Homo sapiens: one gene and its partner. The protein of the gene in region 1 purifies or fractionates together with the protein of each later gene. This does not show direct contact. Each region holds a gene or a part of one and is shown on either strand. Other genes may lie near its edges. The genes, in order: RDM1 and PI4KB.

Region 1 (10,329 bases):
AAAGTTCTTTTTTTTTTTCTGAGACGGAGTCTCGCTCTGTCACCCAGGCTGGAGTGCAGTGGCGCGATCTTGGCTCACTGCAAGCTCCGCCTGCCAGGTTCACGCCATTCTCCTGCCTCAGCCTCCCGAGTAGTTGGGACTACAGGCACCTGCCACCACGCCCGGCTAATTTTTTGTATTTTTTAGTAGAGATGGGGTTTCACCGTGTTAGCCAGGATGGTCTCGATCTCCTGACCTTGTGATCTGCCCGCCTCGGCCTCCCAAAGTGCTGGGATACAGGTGTGAGCCACTGCGCCTGGCCGTAAAGTTAATTCTTTATTGATTTGTTTATGCACCTTCCTCTATCACTGGTTTATAAGCTCCTTAAGTCCCAGATGAAACCATAGCTTATTCTTTTTTCATTTCCAGAACTAAGCATAGTTCTTGGCATATAATAGAGCACAGATGATCTATCGATTGAATGAATAAAACAATGAGCAAGTAAAAAATGAAATTACTTTCTCCAACTGAAAAGAAGGAGAAATGCCTGTTGGGAAAGAAATAAAGACCAGTTTTTAAACGTTGAGTGCCACTGGCGAGACCGGCCTGTATCGTGAGTCACAGTGGAGCCTTTCCAGACAACCAGGAAGCTTCAGAAAAACTCTGAGCCTCTGGGTGGCACAGACAGCTGTCAGCTTGGATAACTTTGCAGCAACCATTTTCCTTCATTTCACCAAAAAAAAAAAAAAAAAAAAAAAAAGAACCAAAAAACCCTCTTGGCCGGGCACGGTGGCTCACACCTGTAATCCCGGCACTTTGGGAGGCCGAGGCGGCAGATCACTTGAGGTCAGGAGTTCAAGACCAGCCTGGCCAACATGGAGAAATCTTGTTTCTACCAAAAATACAAAAATTAGCTGGGCGTGGTGGTGCACGCCTGTAATCCCAGCTGCTCTGGAGGCTGAGGCAGGAGAATCAATTAAACCCGGGAGGCAGAGGCTGCAGTGAGCTGAGATCATGCCATTGCACTCCAGCCTGGGTGACAGAGCAAGACTCCATCTCAAAAAAACAAAACGAAAAAACCAAACAAAAAAACAAAAACCCAAAAAGCAAAAACAAAACCCTCTCAGGTGCCTTAGGCCTTTCCTTGATTTTATTTTAAAACATTATTCTCTTTTCTGTATTTAGAAAGGCAAAAAAGACAGGAACTAAGTGTACGTGCTAAAGTAGAAAAGAACACTTAAACTAGATTACAGTGGGGGGTGAGTAGTAACTGAAAGCTTTGAGTTTAGTAATAAATCTAGTATGAATGCCCTCTCATCTCACCTATCTATTGAGTTGTAGAACATTTCCTTCATTACTGTCTCAGTGATAGGCTTTATGCTGTGAAATTCTCAAAACCTAAAGCTTATGAAATGGTCTCAATGTCCAAAGAGCACTAAAAACTCATTATTTGCAAAATGATACCAAGTAAATGTTTCATAATCTTAGTTGTACCTTTATAATATTTGAGTGGCTATGTGAAATGGTCACAGGTTAGAAACAGACCATAGTTCAAAAGTTAAATAATATCTCACAGGTAATCATTTCAGTCACAGAAAGTGGAACCAGGATTGAAGAGGGTGTTGAACAGGCTAAGAGGGCATTGAACAGGCTACTGAAGTGGGAGTAGTATACCTGGAGTCATTACTAAGCAGAGTTCTCAGATTTGATCAAGGTTAATTCAATGAGGAATGGAATATAGAGAAGAATAGGCAGCAAGATTAGTAGGAAGCAGTCAGATCAAGTAGCCAATCAGGAATTGAAATGGTCCTTGAAAAGGGAAAGATGACTGAATTGAGGCATACAATGAGATATCATTCTGTGGCTCTGGGAAAGTAAAATTGGTTGGCATGTTAATATGGAATAGGGTTTCTACAATACCGCTTAAAGAATGTTCCCATCCTCTCAGAACTGAAGGGAGTTTCAAACAGGCAGTTTGTGAGCCATGGTGAGTATGATGATGATGATGTGATGATGATGATACAGTCTCCTTTATGTAACAGCTGGCAGAAGACCTGGTCACACCCACACATTTTAAATTCACATAAAACTAAATATATAGGCTGGGCGCGGTGGCTCACGCTTGTAATCCCAGCACTTTGGGAGGCTGAGGCGGGTAGATCACCTGAGTTCAGGAGTTCGAGACCAGCCTGACCAACATGGAGAAACACCATCTCTACCAAAAATACAAAATCAGCCAGGCGTGGTGGTGCATGCCTGTAATCCCTGCTACTTGGGAGGCTGAGGCAGGGGAATCGCTTGAACCCGGGAGGCGGAGGTTGTGGTGAGCTGAGATCACACCATTGCACTCCAGCCTGGGCAACAAGAGCGAAACTCTGTCTTTAAAAAAAAAAAAAGTAAATATATAATATATGGCTGGGCACAGTGGCTCACACCTGTAGTCCCAGCACTTTGGGAGGCTGAGGTGGGTGGATCACTTGAGGTCAGGAATTCGAGACCAGACTGGCCAACATGGTGAAACCCCATCTCTACTAAAATACAAAAATTAGCCAGGTGTGGTGGCAGGCGCCTGTAGTCCCAGCTACTCAGGAGGTTGAGGCAGGAGAATCACTTGAACCCGGAAGGCAGAGGTTGCAGTGAGCCAAGATCATGCCACTGCTCTCCAGCCTGGGTGACAAAATGAGACTCCATCTCAAAAAATAAAAATAAAAAGTAAATATAGCTGGGCATGGTGGCCTGTACCTAGCTACTTAAGAGGCTGAGGCAGGAGGACTGCTTGAGGCCAGGATTTAGAGACCAGCCTGGGCAACACAGGGATACTCTGTCTCTAAAAAAATTAAAAAGTAAATATAAGCAGAAGTCTTCTGGCAAAGATTTCATTCATTCAGTCATTTTTTAGAGATAGGGTTTCACTCTGTGGCCCAGGCAGGAGTGCAGTGATGCAATTATTGCTCACTGCATCCTCAAACTCCTGGGCTCAAGCGATCCTCCCACCTCAGTCTCCCAAGTAGCTGGGACTACAGGTGCATGCCACATCTGGCTGATATTTAATTTTTTATTTTTCTTTCTTTCTTTTTTTGAGATGGAGTCTCACTCTGTCACCCAGGCTAGAGTGCAGTGGCACAATCTCGGGTCACTGCAGCCTCCACCTCCTGGGTTCAAGTAATTCCCATGCTTCAGCCTCCCGAGTAGCTGGGACTACAGGCGCATGCCACCATGCCCGGCTAGTTTTTGTATTTATAGTACAGATGGAGTTTTGCTATGTTGCCCAGGCTGGTCTCAAACTGCTGGCCTCAAGTGATCAGCCCGCCTCGATCTCCCAAAGTGCTGGGATTACAGGCATGAGCCACGGTGCCCAGCCTTATCTTTACAATTTTTTTTATAGAGATGGGGTCTCATTTTGTTGCCCAAGCTGAGATTTCTTAAAAAGGGACAGCATAAAATGACATGAGGTTTAGCATCAGTAGGTTTTAGTTCAATCTCGAGTTTCCATAATTCTTGTCAGGAACCTTAAACAAGTCGCTCAACCACCTTGAGTTTGAGTTTCTTCATGTAAAAAACCCAGAGAACTGGAAGATTAGTGTGGCAATGCATCTGAAAATATTCTGTAAACCAGCGTGCTGGACAAATGCTAACCTATTATTGAATTCAGCACTTCATTTCAGCGGAGCTAGGAATTCCATATTTGGACCCACCTTGACTGGAGATTTCTGAAAAAGCTGCTTCCGGTCGCATGCCTTTTGGGCTCTGTGGGCAGCCCTTGCAGAATAAAACTTAATGACGGCATAGAAACCAGGATGGGCCACTGCAGCATTTGGGAAGACCCGGACTGAATACAGAAGGCCAAACTGAGAAAATGCTGTGAACAGAGAATGCTGTGGGGGTGGGACAAGTAAATGCATGAAATCTCACGCCCAGAAAACAAAACCGCACATGCCCTCATATTCCCCAAACCTCTCTTCGCGAAGGATGCGATTCAAAACACTTCCCACTTAATCAACAGGTTTTCCTCTTAAAATCCTAAACTTTAAGAAGCACTGGAAGGTAAAACGTTCTGAAGGTGGAGAGATACCTCTCCGGGACTCTAAAAATCTGTTGGGGGTCGTCAGTTGTCAGTTGGGATCCCCTTTATAATTAAGAGTCCTTCAGCGGAGGCTCAGGCAGGTGAGGGTCTGAGGCAGGACTCCGGAACTCCCAGTCAGCGGGTGGGCAGCTTTCTCCATCCCTCCCTCCATCCTGGCCCCGGCTCACATGCAAAGCCTCGGCCGTGGGTCCGGAGCTCAGCTCCCACACTAGCAAGGTTTTGTCACTCTCGATGGGAACCGCAAAAGGTACCAACTCCGCCATCCTCCCTTCACCGCACCTGCGCGGCTAACCCTCGCCCCAGCATTGCGCCTGCGCAAGGCACGCCCGCGCTTTTTTAAAAAGAGGCGCATGCGAGGGGCGGGGACGGGGCTCGGATCGCTCCCTTGCCCCTCCTACCTAGGGCCAGCCTCTGAGTCTGTTCCCCTCCTCCAGTCACAGCCACAAGATCCCTGAGTTTAGAGCTTCCGTTCAATGCATGTTTAGGGTAAAGTCCCAAAATAGGCTGACAGGATGGAAGGGTAGGGACGTGTTTATAGAAGCCAGCTTCATCTTCACTCCTGAAGGAGATTAGGGTACTAAGTATTAGCACTTGTGGGAAATAACCACGAAAGATGCAATCTTTTGACTTAAGAGGTTTTTTTAAGAGTTTAAAATTGCAAATAAAAGTATAACTCACTAAACCATTAACAGTCTCGCATGAAATCCTTAAAAAGAATTCCCTGATTGTCCTACGTCATTCTGGTGAATCGTGTATGTGTACTTGTGGGGGTCAGATGATGTGAGAGGTTGGAGGTACGAGTGAGAAGGAGAGATTAATTTTGAAAAAAGAAAAACAAACAAACAAACAAACAAACCCACAAAGAATAAGTCCAAATAAGGCACCAACATTGGAGCTGATGGTGTCTGAGAAGGGTAGGTGTCATAATCAGCTACGTGGTGGAGGAGTGTAATCAACTGGTGGGTTCATCATACCCACTGCCCAGAAAAGCTGATTTACTGAGACAGTGTTATTGAAATAGGCAAAGAGTTTCATAAGCACAGAACCAGCTAAATAGAAGACTGGAGTTTTACTATTACTCAACTTAGCCTCCCTGAAAATTTGGAAGCTGGTGTTTTTTAAAGGGTAATTTGGCAGTCAGGGGGCCAGGGAATAGGAAATGCTGACTGGTTGGGTCAAGGATGAAATCATAGAGAGTCAGAGCTTGTGTTCTTGTGCTGAGTGAATTCCTGGTTGGGGGCCGCAAGACCAGATGAGCCAGTTTGCCCATGTGAGTGGTGCCAGCTGGTCCATCAGAATGAAGGGTCTGAAAAATACCTAGAACCCCAATATTAGGTTTTACAATAGTAATGTTGAAAGCAGTTAGTTAGCTTGGACACAAAGCAAGGGAAGGGTCCCCGGAGAGATCCCGGCTCACAGGGTCAGTGCCTTACCCCCACATAACATAAAAAGCAGCCTGGGAAAAAATTCAAGCTACCAGCACCCATAAGAGAACTAGCATAGGGTGTTGTGCCTGGAGACATGCCCACGGCTGCACAGATGGAAAAACCTCTGGCCCATTTGGATAAAAGCTTGCACAAAACTTCAGCTCACTCAGACAAAAGAACAAGGCCTGGCATAGAAATGCCTTTGTCCTTTGTATAGTCAGTGGGCTCCCAGGATGAAGTTGCTTCTACTTTTGTGGGCATGGGCATAGTGGGCTCCGGTGAGTTCCAGTGGGCACTCTACTTTCCTTTTTGGACCTGTAAGTCCAGCCTCTATGAATCATCACTTCAGCCCCTGATAGGTCTTGGGCCAAGCTAAGCAGCATCTAAGAATCATTTCAGCTCCTGATTGGTCCTGGGCCAAGGCTCCTTGCCAAGCTGAGTTCTCCAAGACAGCTGTCGGACTAAGCACATTGCTTCCCCTTCCCAGTCCATAAAGACCCCAGCCTCACAGGGGACACCCGTTCTGGCCCCCACGCTCTGCTGGCAGAGAGCTTTCTTCTTTCGCTTATTAAACTTTTGCTGTAACCCCACCTTTGTGTCCACGCTCCTTAATCATCTTGGAGGTAGGACAAAGAACTCCGGGGGTTATATCAGACAACTACAGAGTGTTATATCTTGGTGCATTGCTGAGACTACAACAGTGTTTTGTATAGGAGCAACTGGAGAGGTTAGGAATCTTGTGGCCTCTGTCTACATAATTTCTGAGCCATAATTTCTAATCTTGTGGCTAATTTGTTAGTTTTACAGAGGAGATCTGATTCCCAAGCAGGGAGGTGGTTTGTTTCAGGAAGGGACTATTATCTTTGTTTCAAAGTTAAGCAGCAAAAATTCCTCTCATAGTTAGCTTGGCCTGTGCCCAGGAATGAGCAAGGGCAGCTTGGAGGTTAGAAGCAAAATGGAATCAGTTAGGTCAGATTTGTCATAATTTTTATAAAGGCAGTTTCAGTAACACAAGAAGTAAAGTGAGTCCTACTACTGTTTATTTTAATCCTAGAATGTCAGAGCCAGAAGAGACCCTACAGGACAAGTCTCTTGTGATTTCTGAATAATGATCCTCAGACTCATGCTGTGATAAAGTTTTCACCCCTACTCTACAAAATGAGGACCATATGGAAAATATAATCAGGTTTTTTATAATTTCATAAAATAAAGTAGATTCCACTCCATTCTTCTACAAGTATGACCTCCCTATAATGTTGATACTAAAAATTTTTCTATGAAAAGATGCTAATAGAGGATAGTTGCTTTAATGCTCTTACTTGGACATTAAAATTAAAAATTAGAAACCTCGGCCGGGCCTGGTGCCTGACATCCATAATCCCAGCACTTGGGAGGCCGAGGCAGATGGATTACTTGAGGTCAGGAGTTTGAGACCAGGCTGGCCAACGTGGTAAAACCCTGTCTCTACTAAAAATACAAAATAGCTGGGCACGGTGGCTCATGCCTGTAATTCCAGCACTTTGGGAGGCTGAGGTGGGTGGATCACCTGAGGTCAAGAGTTCGAGACCAGCCTAGCCAACACCGTGAAACCCCGTCTCTACTAAAAATACAAAAATTAGCCGGGTGTGGTCGGGGGGCGCCTGTAATCCCAGCTACTGGGGAGGCTGAGGCAGGATAATTGCTTGAACCCAGGAGGCGGAGGTTGCAGTGAGTGGAGATCATGCCACTGCACTCCAGCCTGGGTGACAGAGTGAGACTCCATTTCAAAAAAAAAAAAAAAAAAGATTAGCTGGGTGTAGTAGCACACACTTGTAGTCCCACCTACTTGAGAAGCTGAGGTAGGAGAATTGCTTGAGCTTGGGAGTTGGAGGTTGCAGTGAGCCAAGATCCTGCCATTGCATTCCAGCCTGGGCTACGCAGTGAGACTCTGTCTCAAAAAAAAAAAAAAAAGAAAGAAATCTCAGGTTTAATTATTTTTTACATTTTATCACCTGTGAAATACAAAAGTCTGGCAACTACTGAATAGTCAAATCCCTCCTTCTATAGTAGAAACAGCTAAGGCTCAGTGGTAGAGAAATAAGTGGTCCAAGATAAAACCCCAGATTGGTCAGACACTACTGACGGTGGCTATGTGTAGGACATTCCTTCAACTGTCACTTTTCTGATTTTGCCTTTTCTTTAAGCATGTTCTACTCCACCTCAGCACCCTCCAGGCAAACCAGATCCTGTCCAGAGCACCTTTTTTTAATCATCTAGATCCTAGCTTATTCTCCCAAAGCACCCCCAAATTATTGGTATCTGCCACTATTTCTCCATCCCATCACTACTTTCTCCACATCAATACCAGACCCCACCCATTGCCTACTTCTGAGTTTTCTCTTTTACTTCAAAAATTGTTCTTTGGAGGAATTACTTGGATGCTGATACTGTTTCAAAGCAATAATTATGGATTTTACTATACATTTAATTACCTATTGTAATGTTTGTGGATGTCTCTGCTTCTCCACCTAGATTATGAACACCTAAACAACAATAGCTGTGTTTTGTCTTCCTTCTACTACCTAGTACACTCCCACTGTCTTAGGTACTCAAATATATGTAGACTAATGAATAAATGGACACAGTCTTTGCAGAGCGAGTGCTTTAATATTTCGATAAATATAAAGATTTCTTTATTGTGGTCCTCAGTTTACAAATAACAGACAGGAACCAGGGGACTGGGTCCAGATGGGAGTAAGGAGGAAGCCAAGAAAACCATTTATTCCTGGGGCTCTGGTCAGTTTTAGTTGTAAATGGGAAGGGAAGAAAATAACATGAAGTGGAGGCAGTAGGAAGAAGAAATGAAGAATCCCTGAGTGAGGACAGGAGTCTTGGAATGACTCCACGGTGCACCCGCACCCTGTTTCATCTCAGGCGGCATCCTGTCAGCCAGTAGAAGAGTGGCCGGCCTGAACAGTGCAACCTCCATTCTACCCTGCGGAGAAAAAAGACATGGTTCTTGCCTCACACTCAGTAACTCTTCCACACACATGACCCAGTTCTTGGTGAGTCTCGCATATGGAGCAACGCCCAGAATCCCCGTCATTGCTAGCTAGCCCTCTGGTCTGTCCTCCACTGTCCCCTCTGACGAATCCTGTAAAACTCTCTCATCTCTGGTGTTTGCCTGCTTCCCTGGATCAACGTTTCCACATTTTAAAATCCTCATATCTCCCTGAAGGGGTGAGCACTGTTTTACAGGGCTGAGAGTTACTTATTAAAAAAAAAAAAAAAGTCCCAGGTACAACCATTGATTCTCCCTCCAGAAAGGATCAGCATAATCATCGCTGTCAATTCTTTTCTGTGGTGTTTTGAGTATGCAGGGGATTTGACTCCTTCCACAGTTGCCTGTAGAGGCAGCCATTTGTGTTACTTATATATCTAGTTTGAAGCTCAGAAAAGGTGACTATCTGAATGTCCACCGTTGGTGAGCTCACAGCTATGTGGGTGTCTGCCCAGCTGATGAATGCCACATTTTTTTGTTGTCGTTTTTTGTTTCTTTTTTTGAGACGGATTCTTTCTCTGTCACCCAGGCTGGAGTGCAGTGGCGCGATCTCAGCTCACTGCAACCTCTGGCTCCCGGGTTCAAGCGATTCTCCTGCCTCAGCCTCCCATGCAGCTTGCCTTAAGGAGCATGGACAGAAAGCAAGGGAAAGGTCCCCAGAGAGATCCCGGCCCACAGGGTCAGTGCCTCATCCCCACATAACACAAAAAGCAGCCTGGGACAGGCACCCACCACAACGCCTGGCTAATTTTTGTATTTTTTAGTAGAGACAAAGTTTCACCATATTGGCCAGGCTGGTCTCGAACTCCTGACTTTGTGACCCACCCACCTCAGCCTCCCAAAGGGCTGGGATTACAGGAGTGAGCCACTGCGCCCAGCCGCCACATTTTTTTTTTTTTTTAAACAGAGTCTCATTCTGCCGCCCAGGCTGGAGTGCAGTGGCGCGATCTCGGCTCACTGCAGCCTCCACCTCCCAGGTTCAAGCGATTCTTCTGCCTCAGCCTCCTGAGTAGCTGGGACTACAGGCAGGCGCCACCATGACCAGCTAATTTTTTGTATTTTTAACAGAGACGGGGCTTCACCATGTTGACCAGGCTGGTCTCGAACTCCTGACCTCAAGTGATCCACCTGCCTCAGCCTCCCAAGGTGCTGGGATTACAGGCGTGAGCCACCATGCCCGGTCCACATTTTTAAATAAAAAAATATTGTCAATTATGGCCACAGGGCCCGAGCGGCAGCCATAATTGTATTGCTTAACTCCTCCCATCCCTACAGTTGATTGGACCAAGGGGGCACACATGGTCCAAGTGGAACCAATCAGATTCTCTATCCCAGGAACTTGGACTGGGACTGAGCCTAGCCAGTCCCTATGGTTGCTTAGGACTTTAGCTTATTAACTTTGCAGCACCCTTTGTCCTTTAGACTGTGGAGCAGAGAAAGTCTGCGGAGAGAGAAGTGAAGCAAATGCACCAAGAGAAGCTGAAACCTGCCATGGACAGTGTGCTGACAATTTCCAGCCCTGGTTCCATGCTCTTCCTGAGGCCCAGCTGCAGCCCTTGAGTGGGCTCAGTGAGACATCTGGGCCTCTCAGAATAAATTTCCCCCAGCTAGCTCAAGTTGTTTTCTGTTACTGCAACCAGAAGAGTTTTGTTTAATACAATATCATAGAAGAACCAGATCTCAGAGTTCCAAGCCCGTCCGCTATCCCACATCTTTCTAGACACTGCAAGGGCGTGCCCGTGAGTCCTTGCCTACTGCCCTTTTCTCTGTCACGTCCTCCTTCGTGGGGCTCTGCCCGC
Region 2 (9,881 bases), on another chromosome or scaffold:
CTTTGAGAGCAACTGCAGAAGGATCTTCTGGGTCTCGTTTGAAGGCTGTCGGGGTATGAGCCAGCTGTTCCGAAAGGCGCCGGCTGGCAGGAAGAAAATACATCATTTGCTTGGAGAAGCTACCCCCAAGCCCCATGCCCAGTCTATACTGACATTTCCTGCACTGTCTCCTGGATTCTGGACACACAAAGATAGGAACCCAGGCTGAAAGGGACTCATGGAAGAAAACATAACCAATGACACCTTTTTGCTAACTGATTGTAATCATGTTAAAATTAAGATTACCAGGCCCTCCATATTCCTCTACCAAGGCTGATTCAGAATGGGTGTGTCTCTAGAATTTGCATTTTTCTTTTCTTTTCTTTTTTTTTTTTTTTTTGAGATAAGAATCTCGCTGTGTCTCCCAGGCTGGAGTGCAGTGGCGAGATCTCGGCTCACTGCAAGCTCCGCCTCCTGGGTCCACGCCATTCTCCTGCCTCAGCCTCCCGAGTAGCTGGGACTACAGGCGCCCACCACCACGCCCAGCTAATTTTTTTTTTGTATTTTTTTGGTAGAGATGGGGTTTCATCGTGTTAGCCAGGATGGTCTCGATCTCCTGACCTTATGATCTACCCGCCTCAGCCTCCCAAAGTGTTGGGATTACAGGCGTGAGCCACCGCACCCAGCCTAGAATCTGCATTTTCAACAAGTCCTCCTTCCTCCCCCTGGATTCTGACACAGTCGCTTTGAGACCCCACCTTGAGACACACTGCTCAAACTCCTTCCTCTGGTGCTTTCTTGTTTTTTTTTTTTTTTTTTTTTGAGACGGAGTCTCGTTCTGTCGCCCAGGCTGGAGTGCAGTGGTGCGATCTCGGCTCACTGCAAGCTCCGCCTCCCGGGTTCACGTCATTCTCCTGCCTCAGCCTCCCAAGTAGCTGGGACTACAGGCATCCGCCACCACGCCTGGCTAATTTTTTTGTATTTTTAATAGAGACGGAGTTTCACCGTGTTAGCCAGGATGGTCTCGATCTCCTGACCTCGTGATCTGCCCGCCTCGGCCTCCCAAAGTGATGGGGTTACAGGTGTGAGCCACTATGCCCGGCCCCTCTGGTGCTTTCATCCCTTTGGAGTCTTTTTAAAATTTAATTTCCTTCTTTGGTAGCCCAAGTAATTTCTCAACCTACACCTTCATTGCCTCAAGTTTGGTGGCCCCAAACAAGGACAGAATGAAAGAGGGAAAGACACAGGCCAACAACAGATGATTGAGATGGAGAGGAAGGTAACAAAGAGATGGGAAGTTCCTGAAAGAGGGATGAAAAATGAGGGGCAATGTGATCTGGCCATACCGGATGTCCCCTGCTGCAATGAACACAGGCTCCTTGCTCTCCTGGCTGGTGATGCTGTCCACAGAGAACTGGGAGATGTTGTCACAGCTGTTGGTATGCACTTCGGGGAGCTGGAGAAAGGGGAGTGCTGGTCAGAAGTGCTAAAGTATAGGTCTCCCGTCTTTCCCCTCCTGCTTGCTTGCTATCACTGCAGCATGCTCATCCCTCTCTTTCAAACTCTGCTTACACACCATGTTGGTTACTGGGACCCCAGGCTGCCCAGAGCAGCATTTCTCAACATGTGAACTACCTGCAGTAGAATTACCCAGAATGCAGATTCCCAGGCCCCACCATCAATCTGAATTATAATTACTAGGAATGGGATCTGAAAGTCTGAATTTTTAACAAGTTCTCCAGAAGACTTCCAATGCACTAAAGTTTGCAAACCACTGCCATGACCATTACAGGAGCTCAAAATTTCAGCCTCACTGAGAGTCCCCCAAGGATAGGGATGCGTTCTCCCCTAGGGTCCAAAGCAGACTCTTTGCAGACTAGCTTCTGACAGTTTCTTCAATCTAAGTCATTCAATCTTATCTTCTCATCTCTCTCTAAATACAGAATATTCTACCAGACCCCAAGGCCCATGTCAAGTCTCTTCTGTCCTTCATACCAGAGCATTTCTTCTCAACTCCATTTGTCACCTAGTACACACTGCTTTGTTGTATATCTAAATTTTTTTTTCTTAAATGTCTAATTTCTGCAATTGGACTATAAGCTCAAAGACAGAGATTCTGCCTTTTGGCAAAGTGAAACCTGGCTGTGTGTTTTTTTTTTTTTTTTTTAGACGGAGTTTCGCTCTTGTTGCCCACGCTGGAGTGCAATGGTGTGATCTCGGCTCACTGCGACCTCCGCCTCCCAGGTTCAAGCGATTCTCCTGCCTCAGCCTTCTGAGTAGCTGGGATTACAGGCGCGCGCCACCATGCCTGGCTAATTTTTTGTATTTTTAGTAGGAACGGGGTTTCACCATGTTAGTCAGGCTGTTCTTGAACTCCTGACCTCAGGTGATCTGCCCACCTCAGCCTCCCGAAGTGCTGGGATTGCAGGCGTGAGCCACCGCGCCTGGCCCTGGCTGTGTTTTTGTTTTGTTTTGTTTTAAGACAGAGTCTCACTCTGTCACCCAGGCTGGAGTGCAGTGCTGTGATCTCAGCTCCCTGCAGCCTCCGCCTCCCAGGTTCAAGTGATTCTTGTGCTTCAAGAATCACTTGCCTCCCGAGTAGCTGGGATTACAGGCATGTTCCACCACACCTGGCTTTTTTTTTTTTTTCTTTTGAGACGGAATTTTGCTTGTCACCCAGGCTGAAGTGCAGTGGCGTGATCTTGGTTCACTGCAACCTCCGCCTCCTGGGTTCGAATAATTCTACTGCCTCAGCCTCCCGATTAGCTGGGATTACAGGCACATGCCACCACGCCCGGCTAATTTTTGTATTTTTAGTGGAGACGGGGTTTCACCATGTTGGCCAGGCTGGTCTCGAACTCCTGACCTCAGGTGATCTGCTCGCCCTGTCCTCCCAAAGTGCTGGGATTACAGGCGTGCGCCACCGCACCCGGCATAATTTTTCTAGTTTTAGTGGAGATGGAGTTTCACCTTGTTGGCCAGGCTGGTCTCGAAATCCTGACTTCAAGCGATCCACCCACCTCGGCCTCCCAAAGTGTTGGGATTACAGGTGTGAGCCACTGCGCCTGGCCAGCTGTGTTAATAGCTCTACACAAAATTCTGCTCTGGCTCTTCATGCCCCAGAATAAAGTTCAAGTTTCTTTCCCCAGCTTACAGGGTCCTTCCTATAGTCTGGTCCATGCCCACGTGTCCAGTCTTATTCTTCACCACTTCTTACCTCACACCTGCACATCACAGCCAGGCAAAATTTCTTTCAATTCCTATAATGGCCCAAGCTCCCTCTTGTCTTCTGGCCTTTGCATGCAGTGTTCCCTCTGTCCAGCACTCTTTGTCCAGCTAATTCCTACCCATGCTTCCAGCCTCAGCTGAGAGATTACTTCCTCCAGGAAATCTCTTGTGATGCCCGCCCCAAGTCTGGTGCTCTTATAATGTCCTATCCTTTCCCCCATGACTTGACTCTCACCACACTACAACTACTTGCTTACTGGCCTTGTTCTCTTTCCAGTTAGGTCATAAATCCCTTGTAGGCAGGGGCCAAGTCTTGTTCACTAGCATACAGCACTCAGGTCTGGCACATAGAAGGCCCTCAATAAAAATTTCTTGAATGAATTAATGTATGACTTCTCATCCTCTGCTATTCTATGACAACTTTATGTAGGTGTTCAATAAATATTTTCATTAAATTTCCCTCACTCCCCTTGGCCTAGAAGCTCCTCTTTACATTTAAATCTGAATCCTTCACCTGGAAAATGAACTCCACCTGAATCTATTCCAGGCTAGAGTTGTTCAGAGCTTTCCCCATATTACCCCTCACTACCTACACCACTCATTAGGATACTTGCCTTACCCTGCCTTGGGATATGCTGTCTTGTTTCCAATATAGTGAAAGCTCCTGGAGAAAGCTCCTGTGACCCAGCATTACCTCCCTGAAGCCCTCTCACCTCCACTTGCAGCTCGCCTATGTCATCCACCGACCAGGCCTCATCATCGTTGTCATAGTTGGGCACAGTGCTGAAGCTGCCAGCTCGCTGCTCATGGGTAATACCACATTCGGGCAAGTTTTCTACGGACCTCGTACTCCGAATTCGGTTCTCGGGGATCCGGGCAGGGACACTGGTGGTGTCAAAGTTTTCACATTCAAGGACTTCCACATAAATCAGGTAGGGAGCCTGGGGGAAGAGTGAGACAGTATTTGCAACTTACTTCCACCACTAACCCCCAAATCTCAACTCTGTTAGCAAGGTTCTTCCTGCTGTCCTTTCTCCTAGCTCCAGCCTTCATCCAATAGTCCTCTGAAACTATGAACACTATATTTAGGGCAGATACTTGTCCTATGATCACCTATGTAAAGAATTTGTGTGACAGAATCCTTAAGTCTTCAAAATATTTCAACTGAGCTCCAAAATGTACAGATGATGTGCTTGGGCCAAACCACTCTAGACTATCAATTACAGGCTGTAAGGGAGGCCTAGATGCCTCTGTGGGCTCGTCCTGAAGACAGGGCCCAGGGAGCTACAGTGGACAAAAAGACTGGGACAAAGCTGGGCACTGTCCCAAGGAGTGTCCCAAACTTCAGTATTTCCTTTGAAAGAAGAATATGGGCCGGGCGCGGTGGCTCACGCCTGTAATCCTAGCACTTTGGGGGGCCGAGGCGGGTGGATCATGAGGTCAGGAGTTCAAGACCAGCCTGGCCAAGATGGCGAAACCCCGTCGCTACTAAAACTACAAAAATTAGCCGGGTGTGGTGGCAGGCGCCTGTAATCCCAGCTACTCAGGAGGCTAAGGCAGGAGAATCGCTTGAACCTGGGTTGCGGAGGTTGCAGTAAGCCAAGATTGTGCCACTGCACTCCAGCCTCCGCAATAGAGTGAGACTCCATCTCAAAAAAAAAAGAAGAATCTGAACCATGAATACTCATTCCAGTCAGCACACAAATTCAGCTAATTCTCTCCAGTGTGAATTGGGCATCCTTCTCTCCTTTTGTCGGCTCATTCTGATCAGAAAAGGTCTTAGAAACAAAATATTTCTCTATCCTTATGGTTGCTGTATCTGGAAAGCCCAAGAGTTATAGAAAGGCTGGAGAAAAGCTACCAAAATGACCATAAGGTGGGGTGAAGAGCAATTCTCCTAAGATACAGCAAGAAGGAAGCTAAAAAGATTAGGTTTCTTTGGTCCAGAAAAACAAAGCCCAAAAAGGGATACAGGGGGGCTCTCAAAATCACAATCGCACTGAGACAGAGTCATGGTTGACATATGCATCATGAACTATGAAGGGAGTCTAGGATGTTGGTGAGGGCCTCACTGGTCATACACGCAAACTCTGAACAACCATGGGTGAAGAGTCACGTCCAGGGTAGGGGTTTGGGCCAGAACCCATCTACCTTGTCCTTGGAGTTGAGGACAACAGCCTGTGTGTGGGGTACACGGACCACGTGGTGGTCAAAGCCAGCAGTGGGCAGCCAGACTCGGGCAGGGAGCTTATGGTTGAGCAGGGAGAGCTCTGAGATCAGCCTCTGTGTTTTCTGCTCTTTGGTGGGGAGCGTGGCCAGCCGCTTGCCGATCGCCATCAGGGACTTGATGAATTCTCTCTCAGGAGCCAGTCGAACAGGCTACAGGGGTTTGGGGTAAGACAAAAGATGGTGAAGAAACCATAGAATACAATGGCACACCCACTCAGTCACTCCTGGCCATGCAGGCCGGGGACCCCACTATCTGGAGAACTCCAGGAAAGCAGCTGCTTTTTAGTCTTAGTAGGAGCTTCCACCCACCCTTCACAACTTGAATTGAGAATAGCCAGCACATTCCTTCCCTATAGGCTATCCCTTGAGGGTAAGGGAGGCCATGAGTCCAGGTAACTGGGATGCACTCCTCTTCTCCTGGACTTGGGTTCCTTAAGGACTGTACCAAGGCTTCAGAGTGAGCAGGGGGACATCTGGATAGGTTAGCCAGGGCCACAGAGAGAAGAGCTGCTTACACCTGAATTGTTTCACCCTTTTCAAGAACAGGGTTGTCCTTCTCCCCATCTGGATCCTTGGGCTAGATCTCTGCCGAGGGGCTCCGTCAAGTCCCGCAAGGCTAGAGAAGGGAGCCCCACATCATTTCCACTTTCAAAGAGGGAAGATGCTCGTCATTCAAATTACTTCTGTTGATTTCCATGGTATCCCCCTGTCCGTCCCACAATCTCTTACCAGGCGTCAATGCACATGCAGGGGATGGAAAGAGGATGAGCCGATGAGCAGACTTTGCATTAATCAAGGAGAAAGAAAAAGCAGATGGAAGGAGGTAGGTAGATGGAGAAAGCAACAGCTCCTTTTAGCCCTTGATGATGGCCCTGAAGGCCTGTCTCTTTTAGTGACTCCTCTTTGGGTCCTCTTCCCCTACCTCTCAGTGACTAGGTTCCTCATATTAATTCCCTGCTGTGAGTTTGGCTCCTTGTGCTGGGCAATTCAGTCATCCTCAGAAAGAGCAAAGTTGGTCTTGGAATTAAGGTGCAGGTGGGGAAAAAGAGGGACTCAGCTAGACACGAAGAAAGGCTCTCTTCCCAGTCTAAGCCCTTCTACCGTAAGGGGCATTTTATCAAGACAGCCACCCAACTCCCCATCCCATCTCCCCTCCTTTGTAGAAACAGCATTTGACTCACCAAGCCTTTCTCTCCCTTTCCGTGTGTCTTGCTTAGTTTCTGGATTGAGAGAATTTCTATCCTTGCTCCCTCGAACTCTAAAAGAGCTTCTTTTGAAAACTGGGGAGTATCAGGCCTACCTCTACATGTGCAACAGTGCCAGGATTCAAAGGAAAAGCTCATTCCAGCCTCTGCCTCTTGGGAGATGGTTCAGAGTGCCACATAGGGACTGAAAGAGGGTGTCTGAATCCTTCAGGAATGCTTTAAGTGACATTGTTGAAAAGAGATAAAGAAAAGGAAAACAATGGAATTGGGTTTCTAAGGTCCCTGGAAATATCCTGGGGGTCTAATAGAGAAAGAAAATAAGAGGAAATTTGAAGACTCACTTCTTCCTTCATCTGAATCCACTCAGATGGCAACTGATCTCTGTCCCAAGGACCCTCTACCCCACCCAATTCATAATCATCTCAGATTAGAAAAGGCAGAATTCCTTCCCATTCTCAAATCAGCATTTGGGTTAGGGGCCCCTAAGTTACGTGAGCATGTTAGAAATGTGACCCCAGGCCTCAAGAGAGAGGCTCTGCCACATGAGAGGAGATAGGAATCATGACTGAAAGGGGATTAGCACAGAACAGAGAAAACTGATTTGATAGACAAATCAAATAGAAAATATAAAAAAAATCAGCCAAACTCCCAGAGGTCCTGCATTTCCTCTCACGTCTTTGCCCAGCAACAAGGTCCAAGACCCTGTGGGACCAAAGGGTCAGGGGTTAGTCCAGAGGGAACAAGAAAGGAGAGGGGATTAAGGAACATCCTGGGCAGTGAGCTGGGAAAAGGGAAGAACTCAGACCTGGAAAAAATGTGGTTGAAGTTAAAAAAGAAAACCAGTTGTGGAGAGGCAAAACTTTCCTTCAGGCCAAGTCCTATTTGTTTTTGGAGTCAGCTCACCAGCACAGGGCCTAGCATTTAGAAGATTATGAATAAATATTTGATAATCTGACGGCAGAAGCCATGGGGAAAGGGTTCTGGGTGGGAGAAACAGGATCCTGGGGGTTTCTGCCAGGCAGTTTTTGGCTCTAATCCAGGAGTGAATTCTACCTCTCTCCCAGCTGTTTGCTCCAGACACTCAGGAGCTGGGGGCTGAGCAGCACTGTACTCCAGCTGTCTCTGAGAGAAGGATCAGCTGAGCTCATCTCAGCCTGGGCTCAGGATTTCCACCGCAAAGGTCAGGGGAACTCCAGCAGATCTGGGAGGTCTGGGAGGGAGGAGCTGATCTCCCAGTAAGAAAAGGGGCATTTTAACTCCAGCCTTGGCCTGGGGGCTCAGAAGACCTGGGGACGGAGAGGAAATGCGGCCACTGGGGGAGCCTGCCACCCCGTCCCAGCCTGGCCCCACTTACGGAACTGAATGAATTATCAATACTCTCGGTGCTGGAGGAGAGCTCCTGGGAAAGGGCCAGAGGGCAAAGGGAGAAGGAGGGGGTGGGAAGGGAGGGGAGAGAGACAAAGGTAAAGAATTTAGCTCCAACTTGGATCGTAACTGCTTCTCTAGTGAAGTTCTACCTTTCTGCTTTAATAAAAGAAAGTCAACTCAGAAATGCTACTTGCCCAGATGCTTGACCACTTGTAGGAGATGCTGGAAGGGCAGCTCAGACTTTAAGGTCAGAAGGACTGAAGAGACAAAGCAGCCTCTGCTTTTCACTTTATTCACTTCTATTCTCAACTGAATGGATCTTCCTTCTAGGCCAAAGCTCTAAAGCTGGGTCCCTAGGGCAGTAACTGCACTGCCAAGCTTCCCTGCTCTTTTTTTTTACCCACTCACATGCTCTCAACCAAATCCTTCTCCATGGGGACCACCACAGGACTGAACTTAATAAGCTGCATGGCTCCCATACTGGAAACCCCATGTTCCTCCAGCTTTTTGGAAACCTCAGGGAGGAAGAAAAGCTAAACTTTCAGTGGCAGGTATACCTCTTCTCTAATTAGCCTCATTATCACCCTGGGAAGCTGAATCCCAACCTTGAACCTCTGTGACAAAGAGCATCCTAGACCAATAAGCCCAAAATCTCTGGGCTGGATGCTGATGGGAGTGAAGGATAAATCAATCTCCTATCTACCAAACCTCCTTAGGCTTCCTATCAGGCTATCCACATGACAATCAATATACTACAATTTTTGATATAAGTTGGGGAGTTAGCTATATCCATCTAGAAAGCTGACTAGCTGGATAGCAGCTGTCCTAGTCCCAGCCCAGAGGATTTATCTAAACATCACCCCATTGCTGTGTCATATGTGTCCGTGTGCAAAAACAGGGGAAAGAGATGGTGTCAAACTCTCACTCAGCAGCTCTGAGGCAACACTCATGCACAGGGCTCATCCTGGGTTCTGTCCAACATGGTCTACCAGGGCAGGGAACAGAGCAGCACGTGTGCACAAATCTAGGTTGTGGGGGACGTTGAGGTCGGGGTGGGGGAGGTTAGACTTAAAAGACAAAGTCCTAAGAGCTCCCAGGGCAGGAGGGCAGTGGTGAGTTTCTACTCTGAAATCTGCTGAGTAGATTCAAGCATCCACTTGAACTCAATTCCATGGTTTCAGTTCTATTCTAGCTGGAGGTCCTATAGTCAGGTCCTTCCTTGAAGAATCTGGGGACTGGAGCACTTTGAGGGAGAAGCCACATTTGGAAACATGCCCCTAAGGCAACAACTCTTCCATTTTGGGTAGAAGGTGGTGGGAGAATTAAGGCAGTGAGGATGTCAGAGTCTATTATGAATTAGTGGTTCTATTTCTACCTATGAGCTGGTTGGAGAAGGAACAGCAGGCAAGATATTGGCTCCCTGAGCAACGCTCCAGCTGATTCTGTCACAGACAGGTCCTGTCTGACTCATTGACAGCCCTGGGGGAAGGGAGGTATATCATGACCTGCTCCTCTCCTACTCCCTGGGCTTGAGTCACTCACACTGAGTCAGCTCCGGGGAGTAAAGATGAAGCAAGAAGCTGACATCACACCATATCAAGCTAGAAGGCCTACTGGGGCTTCCAGTGTGACATGCGGCAGATTTCTCTGTACAAAGGTTGCAGTCCTGAAAAGACAAAGCTAATCTACTAACAGTGTCATCATATCGGGGAGGGTGTGATACCTAAATCACTCTCTCCTTTTAGCTCCCCCATTCTATACCAAAATATTTGCCATTTGGTTACAAATGGGAGGACAAACTGCCTGGGCAGAGTTCCCCGACTAGGCTGATAAAATGGCTTTGAAGCGGCAGGCTTTGAGGAGCAGTGGTGG

The links.
Region 2: the proteins of RDM1 (region 1) and PI4KB purify together in Homo sapiens (affinity purification with mass spectrometry; 3 studies listed by BioGRID and IntAct, with this or other methods). This does not show direct contact.

The regions. Positions count from the first base shown.
Region 1 is NC_000017.11:35,926,402-35,936,730, forward strand, and holds the start of RDM1 (RAD52 motif-containing protein 1), read right to left. Parts: upstream 4,373-10,329; 5' UTR 4,327-4,372; coding exon 4,231-4,326; intron 3,899-4,230; exon of another isoform or gene 3,882-3,898; coding exon of another isoform or gene 3,855-3,881; coding exon 3,675-3,854; intron 1-3,674. Other genes in the region: LYZL6 (lysozyme-like protein 6 precursor), read right to left, coding at 8,395-8,464. UniProt on the Homo sapiens protein: May confer resistance to the antitumor agent cisplatin. Binds to DNA and RNA.
Region 2 is NC_000001.11:151,302,216-151,312,096, forward strand, and holds part of PI4KB (phosphatidylinositol 4-kinase beta), read right to left. Parts: intron 8,041-9,881; coding exon 7,996-8,040; intron 5,975-7,995; exon of another isoform or gene 5,952-5,974; intron 5,587-5,951; coding exon 5,359-5,586; intron 4,149-5,358; coding exon 3,921-4,148; intron 1,436-3,920; coding exon 1,326-1,435; intron 84-1,325; coding exon 1-83. UniProt on the Homo sapiens protein: Phosphorylates phosphatidylinositol (PI) in the first committed step in the production of the second messenger inositol-1,4,5,-trisphosphate (PIP). May regulate Golgi disintegration/reorganization during mitosis, possibly via its phosphorylation.